7 separate regions of the Homo sapiens genome follow, and regions 1, 2, 3, 4, 5 and 6 are each reported to be linked to region 7. Evidence: microRNA targets listed by miRTarBase, many of them from high-throughput screens and not tested one by one. Region 7 holds a microRNA gene; each other region holds the end of a gene's coding sequence.

What was found. The annotated mature microRNA hsa-miR-2355-3p reads AUUGUCCUUGCUGUUUGGAGAU and lies in region 7 at 1,867-1,888, shown strand. An mRNA with a match to its seed (bases 2 to 7 or 8) in the 3' UTR can be bound and repressed. Matches are read on the target gene's strand: a 7mer-m8 pairs with bases 2 to 8, a 7mer-A1 pairs with bases 2 to 7 and ends in A, and an 8mer does both.
Region 1: miRTarBase lists SLC38A2 as a target of hsa-miR-2355-3p. Seed matches in the 3' UTR shown: 7mer-A1 at 593-599.
Region 2: the mRNA of VWA1 is a reported target of hsa-miR-2355-3p. Seed matches in the 3' UTR shown: 7mer-m8 at 2,078-2,084.
Region 3: the mRNA of ING1 is a reported target of hsa-miR-2355-3p. Seed matches in the 3' UTR shown: 8mer at 1,411-1,418 and 8mer at 4,371-4,378.
Region 4: miRTarBase lists SHC3 as a target of hsa-miR-2355-3p. Seed matches in the 3' UTR shown: 7mer-A1 at 155-161.
Region 5: the mRNA of MVB12B is a reported target of hsa-miR-2355-3p. Seed matches in the 3' UTR shown: 8mer at 2,541-2,548, 7mer-m8 at 2,746-2,752 and 7mer-m8 at 2,953-2,959.
Region 6: miRTarBase lists PACRGL as a target of hsa-miR-2355-3p. Seed matches in the 3' UTR shown: 7mer-A1 at 3,585-3,591.

Annotation. Positions count from the first base shown.
Region 1 is chr12:46,358,437-46,361,436 of GRCh38, reverse strand. It overlaps SLC38A2 (solute carrier family 38 member 2), which reads left to right. Exons shown (of 16, transcript NM_018976.5): 16 at 228-3,000. The coding sequence ends at 326. Among named protein-coding and RNA genes, the nearest start is that of SLC38A2, 13 kb to the left of the region's middle.
Region 2 is chr1:1,438,517-1,443,067 of GRCh38, reverse strand. VWA1 (von Willebrand factor A domain containing 1) reads right to left here. Exons shown (of 3, transcript NM_022834.5): 3 at 186-3,987. The coding sequence ends at 3,281. Among named protein-coding and RNA genes, the nearest start is that of VWA1, 5.1 kb to the right of the region's middle. RefSeq lists enhancers at 1,440-1,589, 2,206-2,255.
Region 3 is chr13:110,718,549-110,723,099 of GRCh38, forward strand. It overlaps ING1 (inhibitor of growth family member 1), which reads left to right. Exons shown (of 2, transcript NM_198219.3): 2 at 681-4,551. The coding sequence ends at 1,384. Among named protein-coding and RNA genes, the nearest start is that of ING1, 7.1 kb to the left of the region's middle. RefSeq lists an enhancer at 722-1,413.
Region 4 is chr9:89,009,983-89,014,533 of GRCh38, forward strand. SHC3 (SHC adaptor protein 3) reads right to left here. Exons shown (of 12, transcript NM_016848.6): 12 at 1-3,593. The coding sequence ends at 3,465. Among named protein-coding and RNA genes, the nearest start is that of S1PR3, 21 kb to the left of the region's middle.
Region 5 is chr9:126,502,894-126,505,999 of GRCh38, forward strand. MVB12B (multivesicular body subunit 12B) reads left to right here. Exons shown (of 10, transcript NM_033446.3): 10 at 284-3,106. The coding sequence ends at 370. Among named protein-coding and RNA genes, the nearest start is that of NRON, 94 kb to the left of the region's middle.
Region 6 is chr4:20,726,935-20,731,350 of GRCh38, reverse strand. It overlaps PACRGL (parkin coregulated like), which reads right to left. Exons shown (of 9, transcript NM_001258345.3): 9 at 1-4,066. The coding sequence ends at 4,010. KCNIP4 (potassium voltage-gated channel interacting protein 4) reads left to right here. Exons shown (of 9, transcript NM_025221.6): 9 at 1,222-2,745. The coding sequence ends at 1,269. Among named protein-coding and RNA genes, the nearest start is that of PACRGL, 29 kb to the right of the region's middle.
Region 7 is chr2:207,107,336-207,111,886 of GRCh38, reverse strand. It overlaps MIR2355 (microRNA 2355), which reads left to right and starts at 1,814; the gene lies at 1,814-1,900. All of the region lies in intron 2 of KLF7 (KLF transcription factor 7), which reads left to right.

The DNA of each region.
Region 1 (3,000 bases), not on the chromosome of region 7:
AAGGAATGAAAAAGTGAAAAAGTTCAGAAGGCCTCAAAGGTAGTTATTGTGTACTGCAGATAACATACTGATCACTTAGGAGTTTATATTTAGCAAGTTAAATATTCTTTCTATAGATTATATAGTGGATAGATTTTAGTAATTAAAGCACATTTCAAAAAATAGAAGAAATGTTTAGCATATATGTTTTATTACTTGCTGATCAATTTTCTCTATGCTCTTTGCAGGCTTTGTTCTTCCTGTTAAGTGGTGTACTGGTGATGACCGGAAGCATGGCCTTGATTGTTTTGGATTGGGTACACAATGCACCTGGAGGTGGCCATTAATTGGCACCACTCAAACTCAAACTCAGTCCATCTGATGCCAGTGTTGAGTAAACTCAACTACTATGAAATTTCACCTAATGTTTTCAGTTTCACTTCCTTTTGAAGTGCAGATTCCTCGCTGGTTCTTCTGAGTGCAGAATAAGTGAACTTTTTTGTTTTGTTTTGTTTTTTTAAGAAACTTATCTGTATGTTAGAAATGGATATGAACAACAAAACCACGAGTCTCGGGTTAAGGGAAGTGACAATTTTATTCCATTCCAGAGAATGGACAAACTCTTAACTTTTATCAAGCCACATGCTTGGCTGTGTCATTGTTTAACTTGGATATTTTATGATTTTACTTGAATGTGCCTAATGGAACCATTTGATGTGAGAAACAATTCTTTTTAATTTACAGCAAAATATTGAATAACCATTGACAAAAACACTATTATTTTTTGTACCAAAAATACTTAAAGACCTCAGAAGCACTCTTTTACTTTTAAGAAATTGCTTTTTTGAACTTTATTCAGAAGCAGTTATCAATAAATTCCATAAAATAATGTCATTGGTATTTAAAAATGAATATTAATATAATGAAATGGTTTGCCTTTTTGTAGGCATAATAAGCCAAATACTTTTTTACCCAAAATAATTTTTAGAGAAAATGATGTAATGAAAAATTGTACCATGAATTAGGAGCATAGTTTTTTCCATTTAAACGTCACCATTACTTAAAAGATGATTGATTATTGCTATACCAAATCAGATGAACTCTGTTCATCACTTTTCTTCTCTGTCCCCAAACAATTTGGTTCATTCAGACTGAAATGTTTGTGTCTTCAACTTATTAGAATGGAAGATAATGCAGATATTTCTGTGGGAAATAAAATAACTAATTTTGAGGTACCAAATAGTGCAATTGGGTAAAACAGGGTTTATTCAGTTGCATCTGTCTCCAGTGTTGTATTGACAGCTCTGGGTCTTTTTTTGGGCCAGCCCTTTTTTGACATTGCTTCCAGCAGTGGAAAATGGGCATTTGATGGCAATAGGCCAAAATTATTGTGTCCAGAGAGTACACTTTTTCAAAATGCTCACCTACTGGAAGTGTGAATTACTTGACAATGTATGGCTTAGTTGTGTTCATGTTTTGTCTACAGTAGAGGTCTAATCCACAGGTTACACCTATGTTTGATATGATATAAGTTCTCTTTGCGTAGGCCACTGGGTTTCTCATGCAGTAAGCTTTATAAAAACTCATTTGCACTGGACTGTCATCTCATTCTTGTACAACGTAGAATTACTTGTTTACATCCAACAAATGGTTAGCTAGGGAAAACAGTGCAAACTGAGTGTTAGTAGTCATTTTGGTCCAACTGCATGTCAACCCTTCCATTTCAATCCCAGTTAGAAATGAAAATAATTACTTTGAAACTTGGCTTTAAGAGCACATTTATCGTACGTCACAGTGTATGGTGAATATATTATTAAATAATGTGGTACTTCGCTCATCAGGCATAATGTCTAAAATCTAATATACATAATTCCATTAAGTGGTTGAAGGAAGCAAATAATGGAATTGTCAATTGGTCATCTGGCTGTAAGGTTTGCCCTTGAACTAAAAATGTTGTTTGGGGCAAGGGCCAGAAATGTGGAGACATGGTTTTTGTTACGCATTCTTGTATTATATGTGACTAAATTTACAAACAAGATACATGTGTAATTAAAGACCCTTATGGAACTGGAAGACGTCTTGTAGTGCTACATTGGGTGAAACCGTTGGTCCATTTTTGTCTGTTTCTATGAAGATAAAATAATTGGGGGCCATCTAGAAATAGAAAGGCAGTGGGAAGACAGATTCTACGGCACTGCTTTCATTTAATTGGGCTTTAGGCACTCCATTCGAATGCAGAACCTCACCTCTAGTTGAGACCAAGAATTGGCAAATTTGCATGAGCTCCTGGAAAGAGTTGCTGACTTTGTATCTAAGACCTGCCAGGGAATACCAAGAGTTGTTTCTACAGACTTTTTTTTTTTTTTTTGTATGGGAGAAGATACTGTGGCAACCAGGAAGGAATGGAAAAAAAATTCTTTTCTCTACAGCAAATTAATGTGAGGAAGCTCCTCCAATCCTCTGGCTATTTAAGGTTCAAAATCAAGTGCCTAGGGAAAATTCCAATGGATGATTTTCTGGGAGCTATCTTGTCTACCTTGAGGTTCCTGAACAATGAATTCCCATTAATGAGCAGTCTTCAGTATTAAAACCACTGTCTTGTCACCTCATTTTGCATTACTGTCTTCCGTGGATGTTTCAGTTACAACTGTAATGTTATTTATAGAACAACATTAATCCATTAAAGCTAACCTATTTTTCAATATTTATGATAATCTATGTACATATATTGTCTGTCCATATGTATTTGTAAATAGGTTGTATATAATGTCAGGTTTGGGTCTTGGGTTCAAGTGTATATATTCCTGTAAGTTTCTTAACTGCATTTTGATGAATTCACATTATGTAACTATAAGAATTGTCCCAAAAGTACCTGTACAGAAAATTGAATATTGAAAAATTGACAAATTGTGTACAAACACTAAAAAAAACTTGTTTAAATTGTATTTGCAATAAACAACATCAAATTTTTTCATGAAATCTTGGTACAAATTCAGATCTCTTATTTAAAATTTAAATAAG
Region 2 (4,551 bases), not on the chromosome of region 7:
GGGAGGCTGAGGCAGGAGAATGGCGTCAACCCAGGAGGCGGAGCTTGCAGTGAGCCGAGATCGTGCCACTGCACTCCAGCCTGGGCAACAAAGCCAGACTCCATCTCAAAAAAAGAAAAGAAAAGAAAAGAAAATTGACTTGGTTTATCACCGTCACTATAGAAAATTGACTTGGTTTATCACCGTCACTATAGAAAATTGACTTGGTTTATTACCGTCACTATAGAAACAGGCGACCTGCTTCCCTAGGTGGCTCCCAGCAGCGTGGCCCACGCTTGGACACCCCACTCCCCAGAAATCTGGACTGAGACCCCAGGCCTCTGTCTGGCTTCTCACGAACAGCTGTCTGGAGAGCTTCACGTGCTGGAGAGCTGTTGCTCCGTCATCGCTCACAGAGGCATGGGCCCGAATTTCAGCCCCCTCTGCCTCTCCGTCCAGTGGCCAGCAATGGGCTGTCCAGCGAAGGGCCTCGCACAACCTGTCAGGGACTGGTCTGGCACGCAGCCAGCGTGAAATCCTCAGGTTGGTTCTCTTCAGATGTGGGAGGTGACCGCAGCCCTGCTCACAGAGAGGGTGGAAACTGGCGCAGGTGTGGGAGCAGCCTCCCTTCGGGGTCTCCTCGAAGTACCCAGGGCTCTCCCCAGCGCTGCCCGCCCCCAGCCTTCTGAACACCTGCCACGTGGATCACAACCTTGTCGCTCTTCTCGTCTCAACTAGAAGCAACTGCAGCATGGCCCTTCCCGATTTCCAGGTGCATGTCGAAAAGCGTGCAGTGGCCTTGTGACGTGGCCGGGCCCTTGGCAAGGAAGTCCTGGCGGGTATCAGCCTCTGCACTGCACCCTGGGTGGACTGAGTCGGGGCCAGGATTGTGTCAGGGGAGGTGGAGGAGACGCGGGGACAGCCGGTTCACAGCGGCCTGGACGGAGCACTCCGGGGCCAGAGCTGTTCTGAGACTTGGTGCAGATTCAAAGATTTTAAAATGCCTGGGGCTACATAAGGGGCAGCACTTCTCAGACGAGGGCTTCTGAAAGGGGCATTCCTTGGCACTGAGATGGAGACGGCAGTGCCTTTTCACCCTCTCCGTGAGGCCTTGTGCTGTGCTCAGCCTTGGTGTGCAGAGATGGGCAGAGGGGAGGCAGAGCCTCTGCCAGACGGGTATGTGGGGAGCAGGGTTGTGGCCAGGGCCCCCGCTCTGCCCTCTCGGGATTGCAGAGCTGGAGCTCCTCCCAGCTTCTCATGTGAGTCTGAGTCGTCCACAGAAGCCACTGAGGCCACCAGGAATGAGCCCCTGGTGCCCCGCTGCCACCTGCAGGGTGCTCCGTGAGCTGGGCCTGGGCTCAGTGTGCAAGAGGCATCTCCTCTCACGTGACCGTGGGCTCAGATCTGCCAACACTCCGGAGAACAGGGTAGGGGGCAGGGGCTGCACGAAGGAGATCCTACCCCTCCAGAGGAGGTGGGGCCCGAGGCCCGGGCCTGCAACCCTGGCCACCTGCCGACCAGCAGTGCAGTTGTGAGCACGCCACCTGCAGTGACACACACAGCCCATGGGTCCTACTCAGGCCTCCGTGGCCTGACTTGGGGGCTAAGGGGAGCTCAGGAGAAACCCAAAGTCCAGCCAGCAGGGCCCCCCCACAGACACCCCCTGCACACACAGGCAGGGGGGCCTACTGTGTCTCATGCATCATCACACCGGAGGGCAAACTCTGCGTGGTGAGCCTGGCCCCAGCCGGCCCTCCATGAATGGTGACCACACCCAGCTGGTGGGCGGTGTGGCCTTGGGTTTCTGGTGGGGCCACGGGATGCACAGAGCTGGGTTCTTGGGAGACGGTGCCAAGGCCAGCTGTCCCGAAGGTGGCCCCTGGCACAATGCCCACCAGACCTGAGGGAGGGACTGAGACCACCTCAATGCTGCAGTTCCTGGGGTCACGCAGAGTCCACGTGGGGAAAGGGGCAGTGGACCCCATGCGGTGCAGGGTGTGGCTTTGCCAGCAGAGGGAGCCCGCGTGGCCCTGGGCCCAGGGCTCCGGGCCGTGGCAGAGACTGCGGTGGGAATGGCCCTGCAGAGGCCCCAGCCCCCTTGTCCTCTGCATTCCAGCCACCTGCCCTGGGCCCAGCTCCAAAGGAAGGGGGCCCAAGCTCTCTGAATAAAAGGTGCACATGAGGACCAAGGAGGCCTGACACTGGGAGGGGACAGCTCCACCTCCTCTCCCCGGACACCCCAAAAGGCGGAGACGTTCACAAGCTGTCCTGTCGGCGGCTGCTGTTTGTGGAGGAGTAAAGCATCCTAGCGAGACTGCAGGCTCGGTGTACATCTGATTTACTGAATTTTAAAGTCTGGGATGTTAGTGGGGAAGAGGCGAGGTGAGCATTGCGTGACGCCGAGGACTAGGCGGGGCGGGGACTGCACCTGGCTAGGCACCCCCACCCTGGGCAACTTGCCCACGGACCCCAGGGCAGTGAGTAGTGACAGGAGGTAGCCCGGGGTGAGACCTCTCACAGCAAGAAGATGGTGTGGTTGCTGGGGCCTCCCTGGAGAGTGTCGTCCCTGCGGCCCCTGGGAAGTGCTCCCTCACGACGGAAGGTTTCCTGTCAGTGCGGTCCCGGGGCCTGATAGTGGCGGTGGGCGGGTGGGGTCACGTGTCCTCAAGGTCCTGAATGCCCAGCTCTGCCCCATTCCTCTGATTCCCAGTGGCTGCTAGCTGGACCCAGCTGGTGTCCTGGGCATGAAGGCAGGGCCACCGTCCCCAGCAGGTGCTGCCCTCCTGGCCAGCTGAGCATCCTGGCCACCATCAGCGTCCAGGTGCCCCTACTCGCCCTTCCTCTTCTTCAGAAGCCTTTGCGGACCTGACCTGGGCCAGCTTCCCGCGATTCCCCTTCCGCTTCCTATCAACGTCCAGGACCCAAGCTGCCCGCCCCAGGCCAGCCCTTGCCACTTGGGGCCCGGTCTTCACACGTGGGAGTCTGACCGGGGCTCCTCCCTGAACAGTCCTGGGTCTGACGCTCTCAATTATCACCCACGGACCCACACGACGCCCGGCTCTGGGCGGGGATGGGGCCGGGGCTGCTGCGGGGTCCCGCCAGGCGAGGCCCCAGCCCTGGAGGGCAGGCGCCAGGCGGGGAAGCCCTGCGGCCGCAGGGAGAGGGCCGGGGTCGCGCGGAGTCCGCGTGGGGAAAGGCCGGGCCTGCACCCGTCTGCCGGGTTGGGCGCCTCCGCTCCGGGTTCGGGACACAGGGGCCCTCAGGTAGGCGCCGGCCCTCTCGGCTGGGCGGGGACGCCGGCTTACGGCTCACGGCTGGCGGTCCCCGGGGTCGGGGCGCGGGGCACGGGGCGTGGGCGCGGGCGCGGGCCGTCGGGCGTGCAGGCCTTGGCGGACAGCGCGCTCTCGCGGCCCGAGCGGAAGGCGGCGGTCACGGTCACCAGGTAGGCGGTGCCCGGCGCCAGGCCCTGCAGCGTGGTGCAGTTGCGGCCCGCGGGCACCTCCACCCGCTGCGCCTCCCCGCCCCGCAGCGGCCCGAACTGCACGTGGTAGCCGAGCGCCGCGGCTGAGCCCAGCGCTGGGGCCCAACTCACGCGGAGGCTGCGCGGCCGGGCGTGGGAGATGACGATGCGCTCTGGCCCGGCCTCCTCTGGGGCGGGGAGGGCGGCGAGCTGCGTGGGGGCCGGCCCAGCCCCCGACTCCGGGCCCGAAGCCCCCGGCCCTGCCTCACCGGGCCGCGTGCGCACCCGCAGGATCTGGGGCCTCAGGAGGCGCACGTTGGACTCAGGCACTAGCGCCACGTCGTAGTCCGTGTCCGGGTCGAGGCCGGCCCAGATCCAGTCCGTGGCGTTCCCTGGCAGCTGCTGGCGTCTTGCAGCCCCCGGCTGGGCGCTGGGCACCAGCTCCAGCACATAGTAGCCCGAGTCTGCGGTCAGCAGGGGTGGCCAGGCCAGGCGGAAGCCGCTGGACGTGATCTCCGTGGCATGGAGCTGCTGCGGCCGCATCGCGTCTGTGGGTGGTGCAGGGGGTCAGGGAACAGCGGTCAGTTCCTCCTCCGCTGCTGGAGGGCGGCCCTGGCTGATGGGGAAGATCTGGAGATTGGAGGCCCCACTAGGAAAGACGGGGCCCCGCGGCCAAGGAGCTGCTGGAGCCATGCCCCGCAGATGCTGGGGATTCTCAGAACGTGCCTTGGCTGGGGGAGGACGGAGGAAAGGGTGCAGCCCCCTCAGGCCCTGTCAGAAGCGCCCCTGCCTCCCTTAGCCCCAAACCCAGTCCTTTGTGGAGAGGTGCAGTGGCCAGATCAGTGACCAGGACAAAGGTCCTCAAAGACGGCAGAGTCCACGGTGGTGCCTGAGAGCAGAGGACCAGCCCCAGCCTGAGTGGCCAGGCCGGGGTCTGAGGTCAGCCCGGCTCTCTGAGCTGCAGCTAGGAGATGGGAGACCACAGGGGCAGGCCCTGGGGTTCTGGAGGCGCTGCCTGCCCTGGGTCCCCAGGAGAGTGTGGGGTGGGGTTCTCCAGAGGGGGACTCCTGGACCTGTGACACCAAGCCCCACATAGCCCTCTGAGTGACCCT
Region 3 (4,551 bases), not on the chromosome of region 7:
CTAAGTCACAAAGTATCCTGGACCTTTACTGTTAACCCGGTTCTTTAAATCATAGAGAGCTATTATATAAATTTATACACATTCTCTCATTTAACAGGGTATTCTAGATGTTGGTATATTAAAATAAAGAAAATAAAGACCTTTTTTATTTGAAATATTCAAATAATTTATAATATATTTTATTAATGTTTGTATATTGTGTATAAATGTAATAAATACCATGTTTATATAATGTTATATGTATATTAATAATTGTATTCAAATAGAAACATTTGAGTAAAAATGATGGCAGTATAGACATAGTCATTAATAGAAAGTATTAATAAATGTTGGGTCCCGAGCACTGCACCTCATTTAAACGTTTCCTCTTAATGGCTTCGGGCGTTGTCACCCGTGCGTGCCTGGGAACTGTTCTCAGGTTCCCTGGGGTGGCTGGAGCGGCTCCTGCCGCTGTGGAAGCTGGGCCGGCATTTGTGTTGTGTTGTGTTGTGTTGTGTTGTGTTGTGGTTAGCACAGGAACAGATAGGCCCGGGAGAGCCTGTGGCTGGTGGGCTTTGTTCTGGGCAAGCCGTGCGCTGGCCCCTAGGCTCCCTGCCAGCCCTCTCCGTAGACCCGTCCGGGGCCGTGTGGGTTGTCCCGGTGTCCTGCTCGCGAGTGACGCCTGTCCTTCTTGCCCCCAGAGATCCTGAAGGAGCTAGACGAGTGCTACGAGCGCTTCAGTCGCGAGACAGACGGGGCGCAGAAGCGGCGGATGCTGCACTGTGTGCAGCGCGCGCTGATCCGCAGCCAGGAGCTGGGCGACGAGAAGATCCAGATCGTGAGCCAGATGGTGGAGCTGGTGGAGAACCGCACGCGGCAGGTGGACAGCCACGTGGAGCTGTTCGAGGCGCAGCAGGAGCTGGGCGACACAGCGGGCAACAGCGGCAAGGCTGGCGCGGACAGGCCCAAAGGCGAGGCGGCAGCGCAGGCTGACAAGCCCAACAGCAAGCGCTCACGGCGGCAGCGCAACAACGAGAACCGTGAGAACGCGTCCAGCAACCACGACCACGACGACGGCGCCTCGGGCACACCCAAGGAGAAGAAGGCCAAGACCTCCAAGAAGAAGAAGCGCTCCAAGGCCAAGGCGGAGCGAGAGGCGTCCCCTGCCGACCTCCCCATCGACCCCAACGAACCCACGTACTGTCTGTGCAACCAGGTCTCCTATGGGGAGATGATCGGCTGCGACAACGACGAGTGCCCCATCGAGTGGTTCCACTTCTCGTGCGTGGGGCTCAATCATAAACCCAAGGGCAAGTGGTACTGTCCCAAGTGCCGGGGGGAGAACGAGAAGACCATGGACAAAGCCCTGGAGAAATCCAAAAAAGAGAGGGCTTACAACAGGTAGTTTGTGGACAGGCGCCTGGTGTGAGGAGGACAAAATAAACCGTGTATTTATTACATTGCTGCCTTTGTTGAGGTGCAAGGAGTGTAAAATGTATATTTTTAAAGAATGTTAGTAAAGGAACCATTCCTTTCATAGGGATGGCAGTGATTCTGTTTGCCTTTTGTTTTCATTGGTACACGTGTAACAAGAAAGTGGTCTGTGGATCAGCATTTTAGAAACTACAAATATAGGTTTGATTCAACACTTAAGTCTCAGACTGATTTCTTGCGGGAGGAGGGGGACTAAACTCAACCTAACACATTAAATGTGGAAGGAAAATATTTCATTTAGCTTTTTTATTTTAATACAAGTAATATTATTACTTTATGAACAATTTTTTTTAATTGGCCATGTCGCCAAAAATACAGCCTATAGTAAATGTGTTTCTTGCTGCCATGATGTATATCCATATAACAATTCAGTAACAAAGGTTTAAAGTTTGAAGATTATTTTTTAAAAAGGTAAATGGTTAAATTTTACATGACAGATATTTTATCTATTGGCCTGTTCCCCAAATGGCCATTTTAAAATGCTTGGGTACACTTCTCTTAAGTGGTCTAGTCAAGGAACCTCAAGTCATGCTTTTGCTATCACCAATCATAGTGTACCCATCTTTAATTTATATCAGGTGTATAAATGTACATTTCCAAATGAACTTGCACTTGTTATATTATAATTGGAAGTGCAGTCAGCAGATGCTGTTGTGAAGCTAATGTCACAATTATGTGCAAAGGTGTGCTTCCTGCTGTATGTGAGCTGTAAAAATGTTACGTGAAGAAATAAATGAAACTTGGCCAGTTTGTTCCTCTAGTAGTATATTTAATTTTGACATAAGTAACTTTTAAAATTTGTCTTAAAAATTTATACACCAGCAATTTAGACAAAGCCTTAAGCAAATTTTGTATTATTGTTCTCACTTATTATTAATAATGAAGTAGAAGTTACTTAATTGCCAGCAAATAAATACGTGTCAAAAAAGAATCTGTATTCAGACCCTGGGTCAGGAAATTACTGCCCACTTGTCAAGTTCAGCCCACCATCTGTTTGAAGATTATATGAAGTTTAAATTCTAGTGTCCATAAATAAAGTTTCAGCGGAACACAGCCGTGCTTATGTGCGTATGTATTGTCTGACTGCTTTTGCAAAACGGCAGAGTTCAATAGTTGCACCTGAAACCATTTGACTTGACAAGCCAAAACTATTTTCTGGCCCTCTGCAGAAAGGGTTTGCTGACCTCTGATTTAGACTAGCATCTAACATTGATTTGCCCACATATTGAAAGGGTCAGTGGAGTTTTCATTTATTATTTTTTATTTTTTTGAGATTGAGTTCCAGGCTGGAGTGCAATAGCGCAATCTTGGCTCACCGCAACCTCCGCCTCCCAGGTTCAAGCGATTGTCCTGCCTCAGCCTCCCCAGTAGCTAGGATTACAGGCATGCACCACCACGCCTGGCTAATTTTGTATTTTCAGTAGAGACGCGGTTTCTCCATGTTGGTCATGGCTGGTCTCGCACTCCCGACCTCAGGTGATCCACCTGCCTCAGCCTTCCAAAGTGCTGGGATTACAGGTGTGAGCCACCGTGCCCGGCTGGAGTTTTCATTTTTTTTTTTTTTTTTTTTTCTGAGATGGAGTCTCACTCTGTCTCCAGGCTAGAGTGCAGTGGCCCAGTCTTGGCTCACTGCAACCTCTGCCTCTCGGGTTCAAGCGATTCTCTTGCCTCAGCCTCCCGAGTAGCTGGGACTACAGGTGCGTGCCACCATGCCCAGCTAATTTTTGTATTTTTAGTAGAGATGGGTTTTCACCATGTTGGCCAGTATGGTCTCGAGCTCTTGACCATGATCCGCCCACCTCGGCCTCCCACAGTGCTGGGATTACAGGCGTGAGCCACCGTGCGCTGAGTGATACGTGGTTCCCTTTAACTTCGCACATGGTAAAATCAGTTTCTTTCCATGATCTGTTTCACAGTCTCTGTGAAGCTACCTACCACAAAGAAGTAGTGAGTGATGACTTTCTAGAATCTAAGTATATGGCATGTATTTATTATAAGTAAAACATTAAGTTTGCTGATTGTTTACTTGTGATAAACAATTATTGTGAACTTTATTTGTGCTGGACATAAGTGTCTGTTTTACAGTGAAATTCCATTATAGAGGGTTACTTGGTAGAGAAATGCAAATTGTAGTTGGTCATATACTAAAATTTGAACTTTTTACATATCAATACTTACAAATAGGTGTTTATTTTCCCACAAAACTCCAGAACATTTAAGAGTCTCGGGTGTTTAAATTTGATGAGATTTACCCAAACAAATAGTGAACAAAAGGTTTATGAAAATAAGTTATGAAACTAAAATACTTAATAAACATCCAGTGACAATAAAAATAGCTTGAGTCTTTGCTTATATAAAATTTCATGCTAATTTTTCACTTCTATATTAATTGGAGGTAATAATGCAAATTAAGTTATAGAAATGAAGATTCAATGAAATGCAGTTGCTCATCCTGGATTTCTTCATATTCAGTTTTGGTGTAGACAACTGGTGAAGAGAGATGGCTCAGAGGCCAAGCCTTGCAATCTAGGAGCCCAGCCCTGTCCTTTAAGGGCTTGATCTTGAATAAATTGCTTAACAGTTGGTCTATAGTTCTACACTTTTAAAGTATGTTTCACAGAGGGTGGTTCCAATAAATAAATGCACTGGCATATTCAAATGTTGGATAATTTTTCTCTAGCTTTCTTCAAGTTTCTCATAAGGACAGGTGGGTAGCCACTTATTCTTTAAAAAAAAATAGATACAATACAGAGTCGTGTTGGACTGGCAGTCTTAAATCACTCTTGTTATTTCCAGTGGACATTAAAAAAAAATCACAGATAAGTACTTAAAACACTCAAGATTTGGGATTTAGATCATGATTAGATACAATAGAAAGATCCTGGAATCCCGACATGAGGACAAAAATGGTACTGAATTCTTTTTGAAAAATAGATTACTGAAAAGCGATCTAATATAGAACAGTTGCTTTTACTTAGATGTTCAATGCATATTTGTTGTATAATAACCAAGTTATTACAGTTCAGATAAAGGGTCCAAAGTGTTTTCGTTATGATATAATACTTTCTATTGTAAACT
Region 4 (4,551 bases), not on the chromosome of region 7:
TAGGGTCCACCCTTCCCTAGGCCTGTCCTTCCTTTTAAGTTAGGACTTTACCTACACACACGGCTTGTCATTTCCCGTCTTTATTAGAAATTACCCACAACTTCCTCCACCTCCAGGAGGCCCTAAAGAAGGCCATATATGGCCCAATCAGGCCTTTGTCCATTATCCCAACATCATAGATGGCCTGACAAAATAGCTGCTCGCTCATCAAGGCTGAGCGGACGCCCAGTCTTTGGGTGCTTCAAATATAAAAAACAGCAACAGTGGTGTCTTAAGCACAGGATTAAAGATTGAGTCATTTGACTGCGGTGTTTTTCACCTCCCCACCCGATTCTCCGGTTAGCTACTCAGAGGCAGCCTTGGAGGTCAAGAATCAAAGCTGACTTAAACCACAATGAGCACCCCCATGAGAGGCCCAGCCGGCCTCCGTGGGACAGAGATGTCATTTGAAGCACAGCTGATTCATTCGTGGGGTTAGGGGAGGTGGGTGGGGGTCTCTAGGGCCACTCGGTAAGGGCAGAGGGGCCGTTTTAGGACTGCTGGCCCCCACCTTGTACTCCCAGAAGACATAGAGTTTGGGGTTAAGTGTTGGGGGTGCCCATTGGAGGGACAGCAGGGCCCAGGTGCACTCTGCAGGACCAGGGTGGCCCAGCACAGCAGCAGCGACTGTGCCCTGGAAGCCTGAGGCCCTGGAACGCAAGGCCTAATGCCATTCCCGCTGCGTTCATTGTTCAGCTTCCCTGCCCTGCCCAGGCAGAGATGTGGCCTGAGAAAGTGTGGGGAAGAGGGGCCCAGGCTAGACAGGGAGGAGCCTCCATTGCTTTTGCCTTGGAATCCTGAGCTCAAAGCACAGGCTGGCACACAGCAGGGCTCACGAAATGCTGAGTGAGCAGAAGAGCTCTGCAGCCAGATGACAACATGGCCTCCAGGAAGGTGTGGCACCAGCCCCAGCCTCACTTTCCCCATGTGTCTGTGAGGCTCACAGGAATGGCCCACCACACAGTGCTGGAGGGAAGAGTTGGGATAACTAATGTGTGCTCTAACCCACTTTACAAATGGGAGGGAACAAAGATTAGAAAATCGCTGCCATCTGCTATGTCTGAAGCCTGCTCACTTCACTGGCACTATTCTAGTGTAACCAATATATAATCTGAGCTTAAAAATGTATATTTTGAATTAATATTAAAAAGAAAAAATTCGACTCCAATACTTTAAATTTTCTAAATTGATTCTCATGCAAAAAATATATATATTTTCTATCACCATCGAACTAGACACTGACTTCACAGCAAGAGCTACTAAAGCTGCAGGTTACCATTCAAGTCCCCCCAAGAGAAAAATAAAGTAAATCAAATGTTACAGCATTCACAGCTCCTAACTTGCATTTCCTACTTTGCTATTGTCCCTGAATGTTATAATAGCATTTTGACCTTTCACAAGTGGGGAATGCATGAATGTAGAAAGAAGGTCATTTCGCACATTTTTCTATGTGGTGCACATTCATGCACAGGTGGGTCAGAGCTGTGTGTGTCTCTCCAGGGCTCCCAGCCTCCCAGAGGACAGATGTGCAGGGCAGCTCTCAGAGCACCCAAGTCTATGCTGTCTTGGGGCAGGAGCCTGATGCAGCTGCTGCCAGCAACCCCGTGGAGCCGTCTGCTTCTGGATCACTAAGCAGAGTATCCACATGATGCCTGAAGCCAAAACCATTTCAGAAAACAGCAGTGCAGTCTACAGTAGTGTCAGACTCTCCAGAGTTTCAATCCACTGCAGAACATTCTAGAACACTGACTTCACTGTCATCTCAAATTCACTGGACCCTCAAAGGCAAAGACTCCCTAGAAGGCCATGTATGAAGGCTGGGGCCTGCCCTGACTCATCCTCACTGGTTAGCTCTAACCTGTCCTTCCATCTGGCCACACGCACACCCCAAGGCAGAAATGGGGCTCATACCATTGGCATTAGAACTTAGCAGTATTATTATCTGCCAGATTTTTCAGTCTCCTCATAACTCTCCTTACAGGATCAGATTTATCACTATCCAACTCTAAGCGTGTTTAGTGTGTCTTTCTGTTCTGCTGACCCATACCCTACAGGGTGCTGTACCCTGTGGGGTCTCACCAGAACAAGAGCCACGCTGCCAGCAAGCAAATGGATCCATCTATTCTTTAAAGGGCATCTGTGAAAATCACAGGGCAATCTCAGCCCAGATAGTATTTGAAAGGTATAAACATTGCCAGCTTTCTAACACCAAATGACTCCTCAGGAAATGACAGTATTTTACCTGGAAGAAAGGGAGTCAAGACAAAGAGTGGGGGCAGGCACATGCTCTTCCCTGCAGCAACGGAGAAACCTTGTTGTTGGGACAGCAGGCCTTTCCCCCATCCCTCATGCCAGAGGCAGTACCTCAAATGGATTCCAGTGACTCCTGGGTTTCTGGCACATGCAGCCCCAGAAGCCTCAATACCTGAGTCTTCGGGACTGAGCTCTGGGATGGGTGCCTGCTCTTGCTGTCACACAGGCTTCTCCCCTATTGTATAAGGCGGGCGGGGGACTTTACTAGCAATTACCATAAGCAGCCTGTAGTCAACCGCTGACTAGAGGGAGACACAAACCAGGAATTTGCCCCGACCACCCTTCTACAAATACCCATTTTAGCATTAGATACATGAGAACAGGGAAGCACTTGTCAATCAAAATCTTGGTTGGTGAAGCTTATTTTGTGCCATTTTGGCATGAAATGAATTCCCAAGTACTCCTCGCACAACTGGGGTCAAGGGTGGCGGGGCCCTGTGCTCAGCAGGACCCGGAGAAGCTGGAGTGCCACCTGTTCTTTAGTGAAGCTGCAGCGAGTTGTGTAGACACCCCAGGCACGTGGAGTGCAGTGCAGGGAGCACAGGAGGTGTCCCAGGGAGGCCAAGGGAGGATGCCCGCTCCCACCAGCAAGCACAGCCATGCCTCAGAACCAGTATCTCATAGCTTTCAGTGCAGGGCTAGGCATGCTCTGAGCAGCATGCCTTGCGATTCCCTCACAATTCTGTGTTTCTATTCCCCTCCAGTTGTGCTTATTAGGTAAAACTGCAGGCTACACCTTCCTAGTGGCATTTCCCGGTGGGATGGGTCAGTTGAATTAAATTTTTGCCTGGACAACTACAGTTAAACTTATTTTTTTTTTTCATTAAAAACATACAGCACAGAACATTAGTCTTACATCTTTCTTAGTCTTAAAAAATATAAATATAGAGGGATAATTTGTACAGGATGTATAGGTATGTACACCTTTAATATGCATATGAGAAATTCAGAACCAAGTTTATGAAACTTGACCTTAAAGGAAGCCTTCCTTTTGAAGCTTTTGAAGAAGGCTCTGAGCCACAGGCAGCTGTCCCAGTTCCAGCAGCCCCGATTCTAGTCCACTCCAGGTCCTCCTGACCTGGTGCGCAGTGCTGGGAGCAGTGCTGGCCAGGTCACTGCTTCCTCTCCACTGGCTGCTGGAGACACAGCTCACTCCCTGCAGAGACAATGGGCAGGCTGCTTTCTAGGTGGTGGTTGATGAGGTGGCTGATACTGTCAAAGACTCTGTCCTTTGTCCGGATCTATGAATGAAGCAAAGGAAAGGTTAAGCACATCTCACAGGCAGCAAAAAGAGAAAATGGTTTGCTCAGAATCAGCCAGACCATCTGAACTGGCCCAGAAGGAAAGGAGGGGGGGACAAGGGGCTTCCACCACTTTAGAGATGCTGTCTGCAAAGAGCAATGGCCAATCCATTTCATTGGTTGGGCTCACCTCCAAACTACCTGAAGACCTTTCAGTAACCATAAGCCCAGGCCCCTAGGACTCAGTTCTGGAATGTCCCAGCCCACTGTCCTATAGGCATGGCCTCCTCCACCTTCACCAACCAAGGTCACCTCACCTGTCTCTCCTGCTCCCTCCCTGGCCCTCTCAGGATAGCCCTGAACTGGGCTCTGCAGGCTCCCATGACCCTCCCACCTCTAGGCCTTTGCATGGACATCTCCCGGCCCAGAATTAGTGTCTTCCACCTGAGCCTGGCCCTACCTCAATGCCAGCACCTCCAGGCAGCCTTCCTTCCTCTCCAGACATCCTGGGCACCCACCAGGGGCAAGCCTCACAGTTCCCCAGAGGAGCTCCTGTTGCCCCTGCAGTCCCCCACTGGAGAGTGAGCCAGGCTGGGTCAGAGGTACAGGCTCCGTGTTCCTGGGCTTTCAATTCTACAGCCTGCCCATAAACTTTTAATGCCATGTCAGGGGAGAGGAGGTTGAACACTCTGCCCTGCTTGCTGGCCTGCACTGTGGTCCCTGGGGTCCATCAGCCGCCTCCACTCTGAGCCGGCACATTCACAGATATCACTCACACTTGAAAAAGGTGGAGTGGGGCCTGTCAGGAGCAATTTTTCGAGGAGGTCTGGACACAATCTCCTGGGAGTTGCATGTTTGATAAGTGGGAGATGGGGGCAGAAAGCAGCCACCTGGCTAGGTCCATTCACCCTCACAGGCCACCCTCGCGGCTATGCTCGAGGGTCAGCTGAATTCCCTG
Region 5 (3,106 bases), not on the chromosome of region 7:
AGGCCTGGCCTCACAGGGAGCAGGCAGGCACTGTGGAGGGTACCAGTCATCACCACAGGAGCCTGTCACCCCCGCAGGCGTGTCCACGCACACACGCCACATGCACAGTTCAGGGGCCCACGAGGGCAGGCTCTGGCTGGCACCGGCCTGGCCAGCTGCGCCATGTCAAGATGCCCCACGAGGCGGCCCAGGCCTCTGCCTGATCTTGATCTGAGGCTGTGGAGGGGTTTCCCTAGTGTCCCATGGACTGACTGTGTCTCTCTGTCCCCACCCGCCCCTGCAGTACGAGTACAGCTTCCGCACAGAGCAGAGCGCAGCCGCCAGGCTCCCGCCCAGCCCCACCAGGTGTCAGCAGATCCCGCAGTCCTGAGGAGCCAGCGGCCACCTGCGGGGAGACCACCGCCGCCCAGACTACTGACGGCAGGGGCTGCTGCCCCCGCCTCCTCCTGCCGCCTCCGCCAGCCCTCCCTCCCACACTGCCCCAGCAGGGCTGGCCCGGAGACTGGGCAGCTAAGTGGGCGCATCCTGTCTTCAGCTGGCCTCACTGACACCCCGGCCTCCCTGGGGACATTGTTCATAACCATGACTAATCTGTGTGTGCTGTAGTGACCAGCGGCTCCTAACGTGTCTGTGTGATGACCAGTTGTCCTCCAAAAACCTCACTCACCACGGAGTCACCCTGAGGGCCCCGGGCAGTTGCCCTGGCCGCCCAGTGACGCCCACCGGCTCCCTCCGCTCCCTCCTGTCACCTACCAGGGCAGACCCCACTAAGCCGTTGAGTCTCTTCCTGGAAGACCCTGAGGGCCGGCAGCTTTGCCTAGGACTCTCCAGGGTCGCTGATCCTCCCCGGCCCAGGGCTGCCAGGAACAAGTTCCTCTCTGCAGGATCTCACAGCAGCCCTGAGAAGACATGGGAGGAAGAAGCCAGTGGCCCTGGGGTGGACCCTGCCCTTTGGACATCCCATGGACTTGTCACCCAGTCGCCTGGAAGTCGGGGAGCAGCACCCCTGCCCCCGGTGGAGGGGTTGTTGCTTTCTGGGGAGGAGGACGGTTGACGGCCCTGCTTGGATCCACCACCAGGACGCTGTGCTCGGCCATGGCGCGCCTCCCCCAAGGGCTCATCTGTGCAACAACCACATGCCAACAATAGCTCCAGGTGCCTCAGCCCCGTGCCCTGACCCGGGGACCACAGGGACACCCTCTGAGACGTGCTGGCCCCAGGAGGATACAGGCACACGGGCACCCAGCCCCTCTCAGAGCCAGGCGTGTCTTGACGGTATCTGCTGACGGGAACAAGTCATTCTGAAAGGTCCCTCTGACCCAGGTCACCAAATTTGGGCCAGAACTGGCACTTCCGAGTGCCCACTGGTGCTGGCGTCCTCAAAGTGCCGGGCGCCAAGTTCAGCCCCAGGTGCGTTTGCCTAGGCAGTGGTGGCTGCCATCCCTCGGGGCCCAGGCCCTCACCCGAAGGGCTGCCTCACTCTGTGGTGTCAGGCACTGGGCTGTGTCCTGATTCCTCAGAGTATGGGGACCTGACATCTTTGGGTCCCCAAGAGTTGGCTCTTGGATGTGGAGGCTTGATGCTGCGGTTGGGGGCTGCACTACCTGCGTCCGTGGAAGCCTCTGCCTCAGCGGGGACGGCCTCCTGCTGCAGGTCCTGGGCAGCCCACAGTAGTGCTAGCTGAGGCCCAGAGGAACGGGAGGAAAGGGAGGCAGCGCCGGACGGCGCAGCTGGCCAAGAGGCGGGCGGGGCCAGAAATACCTCATGCCCCTGCACCAGCCCCTCCGTCTCCAGGCCCCAGGCCTCTTTGTGGACCCATCTTCCTCCTCTGCCACCCCGATCTTCACTCGGATACCTCTTGATTTCTGTGGATAAGGGAAGCGGCCACTTCTCCCTCCCTGAGACCCGAGGATGCCCCTGGTGGGGGTGGCCTTCTCAGGACTCCTGGGTGGCACAGCAGCAGGACCTTGTCATGGGACTGATGCTGAGCAGGGAGGGGGCTGCCAGGCTGGCTGCCGATGCTCCGTTCACATAAGCCAGTGTGGTTCTGGGGACCTGAGGAGCCCTGTGGCACCCACAGGGGGCACCTATGTCTGCCGTGGCTCCTCGGGTGGTGCCCTGTGTGACAAAGCCCAACAGCAAGGGTGACTCCTGGCAGGTGGGGGCAGCAGGAGGGCAGAGGGCAGAGCTCTGGCCACTTCTGCCCACTTCATTAGGGTTTGTGAACTTTGTCCTTCACCTCTTTTCGTGCCCTGGTTGTGAGATTGCCTCTAACAGGTAATGCCAGGGGCCCTTCACTCCGCCCCCATGACTGGGAAGAGGCCTGTGGCAGCGCCGCTGGACCCTAGGAGGCTCAGAGGCAGTGGTGTGGGAGCCCTGTCTGCAAGGACGCAGAATAAGCAGTGAGGGCGGCTGCAGGAGAGGAAGGGGCTCCCACAGCCCCCACTGATGCCGCTGCAGGCCCCTGTCGAGCTGGGGTCCCAGCCAGGTGCCCCCGCATGCCCTCCTGCAGTTGCTGGATGGATAGGGACACCAGGAAGAGGACAAACTGCATGGACTCAAGCGAGCTGGAGCCATCTTCTCCATAGCATTACGGACTTAGCATAAGAGTAAATGACTGTGAACGTTGTAGTAAACGGCAGCTTAAGATAAGTAAGCAGAGACAGTGTTAAGGACGAGTTGGTGTCTGTGGTAGCTTTTAGGCTGCTCCTAACCCACCATTTATTGCCTTCTGAGAGGTGGGTGAGGACAAGCATGTGCCTGTGTGTGTGTGTGTGTGTGTGTGTATATGTGTGTGTGTGCACGCACATGCGTGTGTATAAGCCCACCTGAGTGGGGCTCGTGCAGGAGAACTGAGGCATGAAACTCTGGCTCAAACCTAGGAATTGAGAGCGTTTCTGTCTTTTGGGAGAGTACTTTTCTCCACGAGCCCTCTGGCCACTGTGGGAGGGAAGGACAAGGGTTCCCTTGGAAATGTGAAGGGTCTTGGCCTCATCCCTCAGGTCCCCCCACAGCACTTCCCACTACTGCTTCTGTCCCTGCTGGCAGCCTCTGTCCCTCCAGAACGGCTAACCAGAGCACACTGTCCCCACCGCCTCCCCTTTCT
Region 6 (4,416 bases), not on the chromosome of region 7:
TGTAATCCCAGCACTATGGGAGGCTGAGGCGGGAAGATAACTTAAGGCCAGGATTTTGAGTCCAATGTGGGCAACATAGCAAGACCCTATCTATCTCTACAAAAAAAAATTAAGTTAGCTGGGCACGGTGGCACGTGGCTGAAGTCTCAGCTACTTGGGAGGCTGAGGCAGGAAGATCACTTGATCCCTGTTGAGCCATGATTGTGCCACTGCACTCCAGAATGATGGGCAACAGAAATAGACTCTGCCTCAAAACTAAAAAAAGAAAAAAAGAATTTTTCAAATAATCCTGAAAACAAAGAAATCCGTTGTTTCTTTAGTTTTTCTCTTTATTTTTAAATTGTTGTTCTTACTTTTCTGGATGTCTGCTTGTCTCTCAACTTGGATTTCCATGCAGTGGTCTTTGAGAGAATTAATTTGGTGACATTAAGCTGCTTGACGGTGATGTTACTTGGTTTCTAGCAGTGGAAGCCATTATTGGTTCAGCCACCATTTACCACTACCATAAACAGCTCAGTAAGTGCTATTCACATGCAACTGACAAGTGCTCCAATAATGCCCAAAGTCTGTCCCCTAACTCATTTCTAAAGAATATGCTAAACTGAACACAGCCACTGAGCAGTGGTTTCTGCTCCCCAATTCTTTCTCTGTAATTGAGAGACCATTCATTTTTAAAGGCTCCTTCAGGCCATGCAGCTTTAGCCATAACTAGCAGACAGAAAGAGAGATGATTACTGCAAACATGTTACCTCTTAATCCACCACCCTGCCTCCTATGCGCCAGCCTCCAATCTTCATGAACTGCTGGCTCATACACACAAATTTTCCTTGTACCTGTATAAAAGTCTGTGTGATTTGGCCTGTGATCTACATAGAATGCCAAAATTCTCATTTGCTTTGACACACCTCTGCACCTCTGTAGTTTCCATTTTGGCATTATGATTTGAGAAATATCCTCTATTAATACCAAGTAAAGATTTAAATAAAGTGGTTTAATGCCTGGTCAATAGACTCCACAAAATATAAAATGGGTCCTTCATAGTCATCTATGTGGAAAATGGATAGAATAGAATGGCATTTACATTTGCAAACACTTAATATTTGAGCTTTTGGCATAGGTGGTTGAGGTGGTTGATGGGAGGAGGCAATACTCAGGGGCAAAATAGTGTACTTTTCCTTGCAGATATGCTGAATTTAATCGCTCTGTGTTTCTCCCTTACAGGATGAAAACATAATGCGCTCCATGCAGCTCTTTGAAAATGTGATTTAACTTGTCAAATAGATCCTGAATCCAACAGACAAATGTGAACTATTCTACCACCCTTAAAGTTGGAGCTACCACTTTTAGCATAGATTGCTCAGCTTGACACTGAAGCATATTATGCAAACAAGCTTTGTTTTAATATAAAGCAATCCCCAAAAGATTTGAGCTTTCAGTTATAAATTTGCATCCTTTTCATAATGCCACTGAGTTCAGGGGATGGTCTAACTCATTTCATACTCTGTGAATATTCAAAAGTAATAGAATCTGGCATATAGTTTTATTGGTTCCTTAGCCATGGGATTATTGAGGCTTTCACATATCAGTGATTTTAAAATATCAGTGTTTTTTGCTACTCATTTGTATGTATTCAGTCCTAGGATTTTGAATGGTTTTCTAATATAGTGACATCTGCATTTAATTTCCAGAAATTAAATTAATTTTCATGTTTGAATGCTGTAATTCCATTTAAATTCCATTTATATACTTTAAGGAAACAAGATTACAACAATTAAAAAAACACATAGTTCCAGTTTCTATGGCCTTCCCACCTTCTGTTAGAAATTAGTTTTATCTGGCATTTTTAAACATTTAAAAATTATTAAACATTTAAAAATTAGTTTATTATCAGATATCAGCATATGCCTAATAAAACTTATTTTAATAAGCATTTAATTTTCCATAATATGTTACAGCCAAGGCCTATATAATAATTTTGGATTTGTTCAATCTTTCTTACAGGCTGTTTTCTATTGTATCAATCATTAGTATCAATCATTAAGTGGAAGTTGAAGAAGGCATCAAACAAAACAAGGATGTTTACAGACATATGCAAAGGGTCAGGATATCTATCCTCCAGTATATAGTAATGCTTAATAACAAGTAATCCTAACAGCATTAAAGGCCAAATCTGTCCTCTTTCCCCTGACTTCCTTACAGCATGTTTATTTATATTACAAGCCATTCAGGGACAAAGAAAGAAACCTTGACTACCCCACTGTCTACTAAGAACAAACAGCAAGCAAAATTAGCAAGCAAAATTCACTTTGAAAGCACCAGTGGTTCCATTACATTGACAACTACTACCAAGATTTAGTAGAAAATAAGTGCTCAACAACTAATCCAGATTACAGTATGATTTAGCTCATCATAATTCAGATTATTTTTAATCATCTTAGCCAAAACTGTAAAGTTGCCACATTACTAAAGCCACACACATCGTCCCTGTTTTGTAGAAATATCACAAAGACCAAGAGGCTACAGAAGGAGGAAATTTGCAACTGTCTTTGCAACAATAAATCAGGTATCTATTCTGGTGTAGAGATAGGATGTTGAAAGCTGCCCTGCTATCACCAGTGTAGAAATTAAGAGTAGTACAATACATGTACACTGAAATTTGCCATCACGTGTTTGTGTAAACTCAATGTGCACATTTTGTATTTCAAAAAGAAAAAATAAAAGCAAAATAAAATGTTTATAACTCTACTGTCTATGTTACAGGTCTTTTCCAAGAAATTTTGTAATTAATTAAATCTTACAGTACTTTCTAGATGGCAGATAGCTCTGGATGGTGCTCAATGCAATGAAAACAGGTAAAAGCAAGGCCAGCAGGCAGGCAGCTGTTGTAGCCAGAGGGAATTGCTTCTATTACATCAAAATTCTGAACTATGTCTATATTATATTTTAAAAGCTTCTTAAAAATTGCTAAACATAAGCACAACAAAATCAATGAATGCATGTACAAGTTTTAACATTTTAATTGCTGAATATCTTTAAGTGAACATCAGTATTTTCTGGCTATGAAATGCAAAAATAACACATTTACTTAAATACAGTTAACACCTAAAATTTAGGTAGTTGTAATGAGTTGTAATAAACAACATACTTGTAATAGAATTTACAGAATTAGAAAAAATTTTTTAAACTAGAATACTCTGAAAATTTTCCAAGCATTGTACATTATAAAATACATATTTACAAATAATATTAGTAGTGTATTCATGGGGCCAGGCATGGTGGCTCACACCTGTAATCCCAGCACTTTGGAAGTCCACTGTGGGAGGATCACTCACCAGAATTCTGAGACCAGCCTGGACAACAGAGTGAGATCCCATCTCTACAAGCAAATTTCAAAATTAGCTGGGCATGGTGGCACACGCCTATAGTCCCAGCTAATCAGGAGGCTGAGATGAAAAGGATCATCTGAGCACAAAAATTTGAGGCTTGCGGTGAGCTATGATTATGCCACTGCACTCCAGTCTGGGCAACAAAGCAAGACCGCTTTTCTCTTTTAAAACAATTTTTTAAAAGTGTATTCACAAACATTTGTCCACTATTTTAAACTTCTATAGCCTTGTTAAACATTAAACCCAAGAAATGGCAAACTATCTATAAAAATAAGGGCACAGCTACAAACTGATTGCCAAAAAAGTGTTGTTATAAATAAAAAGACACTAGAAAATACAAATACATCTTATCTTGCAAACTCAATAATGGTTCTTCGCACAAATAATAAAAATACAAAAAATAAACCTCAAAATTGTACTCTTATAGAACTTATTTTAATAACTTTCCATTAGTAACTGTTCTTTTTTGTTGATGAATAACTTTGATTCAGTGTCTATTCATCTTAACCTAGTAAATAATGAATGGTGGCTGTGATTTACAAAAGAATAAAATAAATGAGTACCCACAGTTAGTGCTTGACACGTCAACAGGTAGAAAAAACAATTTTTGTTGGCTCCCTTCTTCAACAGCATATGGAGCAGTATGTTGGAATTTTAGATTTGATGATGCTAAGGCTCCCCTGTCAACAGAAAAAAATTGAGCATCATTAGTATCATGCAGAGTTCCCCTAATAGGTATTATATTTGCAGGAATATGCCTAGAAAGTATCTAAAACTCAAACAAAAAGGGGTAAGAACAAAATGATGAAATAAGAAGGACTTTTTGCTGAGTTAAATAAAATATAGGCTGTTTCTTTCTCTTTTTTTGAAGTATCTAACTAGAGAAGTAGTTAGAAGCCAGACTACCAGTATCTGAATTCAGCATCTACTAGTCACTTATTCGTCAAACCTGGACTAATTACTTTTCTGTGCCTAAGTTCCGTGATCTTTAGAGGGAGATAACAACAAAATCTCCCTCTGATGACTAGGA
Region 7 (4,551 bases):
CTCACTGTGGTCTGGCAAGACCCTGGAAACCCAGGGCAGGGGTCTTTGAAGACTGAAGGTGGTCATGGTTATTAACCCAGTGATAAATGAACATCAGTGCATACTTCCGAGGCTTCCTCTCATCGTACTCTTCTTGGAGAGCAGATCTTTTTTCTTTTGATGTCTCCATGTTTAAAACAATAGTGAGAGTGCAGGCATACAAGCAAGCATGCTTTGGGGAATGAAGAAAGGAGGTATTCCATGGAGTTGCTTCAACCCCTGGTTCTCCTCAGTCCTGAAAACCTGCTTTGCTAATTCTCATGGCCACACAAAACTGCTAGCTTTGACATCAAGCAAACCGGTTGACAGAATTGGAAAGGACGAATCTGATGGCTGCTAGTCCCCCAGCAGGGCTGCTGCTAAGCCACAATATGCTTTTGTGTGAATTAGAAAAAGTACCCTTTGCGTGGGGCAGCTTCCCTGTGCTTGAGGAGCAGAGCCAGATTCAGCCCCTCTCAGCCTGTAGCTGGACACCCTGTGCTCAAAACCTTATGTGGCCTGTGCGCACTGGGAGAGCATTCCACACAGATGGGCCTTCCCTGAACTTTTAAGAACTTCTGAGGCTAAGAAGGGCATAGCAGGAATGGGAGAGTCACACAATGGTTCAAGGAGGGTATCGGGACATCCTGTCAATGTCTGAAGAGGCCATTATGTGTGACAGCAAATCTTTTGGTCCAGCCACTCTCCCAAAATGTGAGATCATTAGTTGCCTAATGTGGTGGTTCTCAACCAGGGGAGATTTTTTCCCTCAGGGAACATTTAGCAATGTCTGGAGACATTTTTCATGGTCATATGTGGGGTTGGGGGTATGCTACTGGCATCTGGGAAGTAGAGGGCAGGGATACTGCTAAGTATCCTACAATGCCCAGGACAACTTCCACAGCAAAGGATCATGTGGGCCCAAGGGTCAACAGTGCCAAGGTTGAGAAACCCTGGCCTAATGCAACCTTAGCTGTCTTCTTCTCTGTAGGTTGCTCTGATCCACTTGCAAAACGTTTCCTAATCCTTTTAAGATGACCTACCCACCAGGTCTTGCCTTCTTCCCTTTTATGATCTTTAACAATATTGACTAAATGGAAATATTGCATTATTTATTATTTCTGTCAGGATTTAGATGATGTGCCGCTTTTCCCCTTATGGTAAGAAAGAAATCTCCCTACCTCCACTAAATGCTTAACCTTCTAGATTGAAGATTCGTGATTGTGACTCTTCCTGAGCCTCATGCCCTCCCCTTTTGCAGAAGGCTCCTGACCTGTAATAATTTGAGATTTTGCTGAGGCAGAGGTCTGATCACATCAGCTGCCAGGCTGGTACGTGGGAGGGAGGTGCTTTGCCAGGAAATGGGCCTAGCTGACCACGCACTGAAGAGCCACACCATCATATGGTATTGTCATTCTCCCCCTGGGTACAGTGGCCTTGCTGAAATGTAACAGTTGCTTCCTCGTTACCAAAAAGAAGATTAACTGTTAGTGAAGAAATAAGAGTGACGTGCTTTCCGTGGGAAAATAAAACTTTTATTGGTAAAACTGTATATTGCGCTGGCATTTGCTGCCTCAGTACATTTCCTACTATTCACTGTTCTGGTTCGCACCAGCACCATGAGGAGCATACTGGAAGCTTTCTGAGTTCTTAGGGAGAAAGGTGCTATTTCAGGTAAAAGGATTTAAATTGCCTTATCTAATGGACACATACTTTATGTCTGCATTTTGTCAGGAGCTGTGAATTATGCATTGGCCCTTTCAGCTACATTCACGTGCATAGAAAATAACATTGTCAGACGTGTCATCCCCAGATACAATGGACAATATGCTATTATAATCGTATGGCATTGTCCTTGCTGTTTGGAGATAATACTGCTGACTTTATTCCTCTCATACATGTGAATGTGGCTGTAGGGAGCACGTGACATCTGTGGCTTTTACATGTATTAGCTTATCCCTTGCCACTTGAAGAGATTGCCATTAGTGAGCTGGCCTTGTGGGGTCATGCTAAGTGCCATGTTTTGGATCACAGTTGTTATCGGACCTTAGTTTTAGATCCAGTAGGGAATTAGTAATATTATCTTGATGGCCTGAAGATGCAGTGGGTTACTTAGTCAGCTTCCCAGAGCAGATGTGCTAAAGAAAGGGTAAGCTGAGGCGTTCCTACTCAGATCAGCTTTGGGAGTAAGAAGGCAATTGGGTACCAAGCCTGGGAATGGCTGCTTCTATGTTAGTGCATTACCCAAGTAAGCAATAATAATATCACTTGTATTGATCTTTACAGTTGCCAAGTGTTTCACATACATCCTTCCATTTAACCTTCACTTACCGATGAGGTAAGTCTTCTCATTATACCCATTGTACAAATAAGGGAACTGAGGCTGAAAGAATCATTTTTCAAAGATTTCACTGCTGAACCATCACAGAGCCTGCCCTACTCTGTTTTTCCTTTAGAGATCAGTTATTTCTTTTGGGGGCCTAAGTTGAAACAATATAAATGAATTCAGTTTTGTTTATGGTTCAGAAAAATAAATGGCTATTTGTTGTTATTTTACTTGTTCAGTATAACTACTAATTCAGAATAGCTAAGAAAACTGAGTGATTATCTTGTATATTCCTACATTCTGTCTATTTTGGTTGAACTTAAGAATCCTTGATCTTAGTTGGTTTTCCCCTATTTTAAGAAAGAAAGCTGGTTTTGAAGATGCAAACAAACGCAAGGTATTGATTCTTGAAGTGGTATCTCAGTACTACTGCATTTGCATATTTTAGATAATTCTTGATGAGAAATAGCAAATAGAAACTTTTCTCTGAACCCCTTGAAAGAATGCATCTTAGCAATCCTCTTTATTACTAAGCTGGAAAACCCAAATGGAGATGCCTTAAAGAATTCAAAGGAATCTATGGATGGGTGGATCTTGGTGTATGAGTTGTATGCTCCTCTCAGTTACACCAGAGCTTTGCTAGGTGAGGTTGAAGAAATGATTTATGTGCCTTTATTTTTGTTTGTATGATAAGTGTGGAATTCAGGATAATTTTATTTTATCTTTGTTTTTGCCCAGTTGAGGATATTTATAATGGGTTAGAAGTCGTAAGAATAAAAACCCTTGGTAAATACAGGAATTGTAAATCTATTCATTGGCAAAGATCCCAAACTCAGGTTATGATTTTGCTTGTTATGTGCAGCAGTCTCTCCTCTGAATTCAGAAAAGCACACAGTGAAGAAGAATAGCTGCTTTCTAGCATTCTGCCAAAAGGATCTACAGGAACCTCAGAGTGATGGGCATTTATATTATATCCAGAGATCTGAGGAAAGAAAAGGTATTAACACCAAAAGACAAATTCCTGGAAGGCTGAAGGAATAACACACATTACCCCTGAGGGCTCCACTCTTTTGAGGATTGTTTGTCTGTAGATATTTTTGTGTGTGATCCTGTGTTCCTGTACATCTTTGTATTTTCAAACTTCCCCTTTTTATTTCATTCTACCTGCCGTGGAAATAATCTTAATAAGTCGTTAGAATTGGCGGGGCCCCCAACCCAATTTGATAATAGCCTTTTCCTTGCTGATAATTGGCTACTAAGCATTTAGAATGCTTTCAAATCCACCTGTGTATCTTTCTCCCCCCTCTCATGGTTAGATGTTAAAGTTTTTGTTTTTGTTTTTATTTTTGTTTTTGTGGTTTTCCTGGTGTGCACCTTATCCAAAAAGAATAGTTAATGAGCAAAGCCAGAAAGAATCCTTTGCAGCCAGGGAAAACTTTTCATACATCCTTCCCACTCCTGTCATTGTATGAGCTACAAGGACCATAGGTACAAAGCTTGTGGGATCAATTACCACAAGCTCACCGTTAAGCATTTTTTTAAAAATCTGTTGCGAGAAGAGTAAAGCAATAATTAAAATTAACTGAACAGCTTTTGCTCTATTGAGGCGTTAAATCTTTGTGTAAACACAATCACGTTGTGCAAACATAGGTCTTTTTAGTTGGGTGATTTAGACAGCGAACCCACTGAAGTTTTGAGGTCTCTGGGTCAAGGGTCCGTTTTGACACGGTTTGAGAGGTCACCTGCTCATTTGTGTCTGTGTTCTGCTGCAGAGAGAACTGTGAGCTGGTATGGTTCCTTGCCCACCGCAGCACAAAGAAGAGCCGGCTGGCATTTGGCAGATAGCGGTCTGTGACGAGGGGGAAGGAAATTGCACACAAAGCAAGACGGCTGCACACAGGAGCCGGTGGGGAGTGCTTAGGAACCTCTGGGGCCCAGGCAATGATGCGGCTTGAAGGTGGAGAAAACAGCAGTTATAAAATATAAATGTGTTTATTATTACACTGGGCCTATGCTATATAATTTTACACACACTCATATTTGTGATTTACGGCCGCAGCTCCATATGGAGGAGAAGCTTGCTAATTTACCCAAATTGATAGGGATGCCGCTGAAGATCATCAGATTGGTAGGAGCAGTAGCTGAGAAAAAGTGGCTCCTAAAACAAAAAAGATTGGGGTGGGGGAACTGCTGTGTCAGAGGCGTCC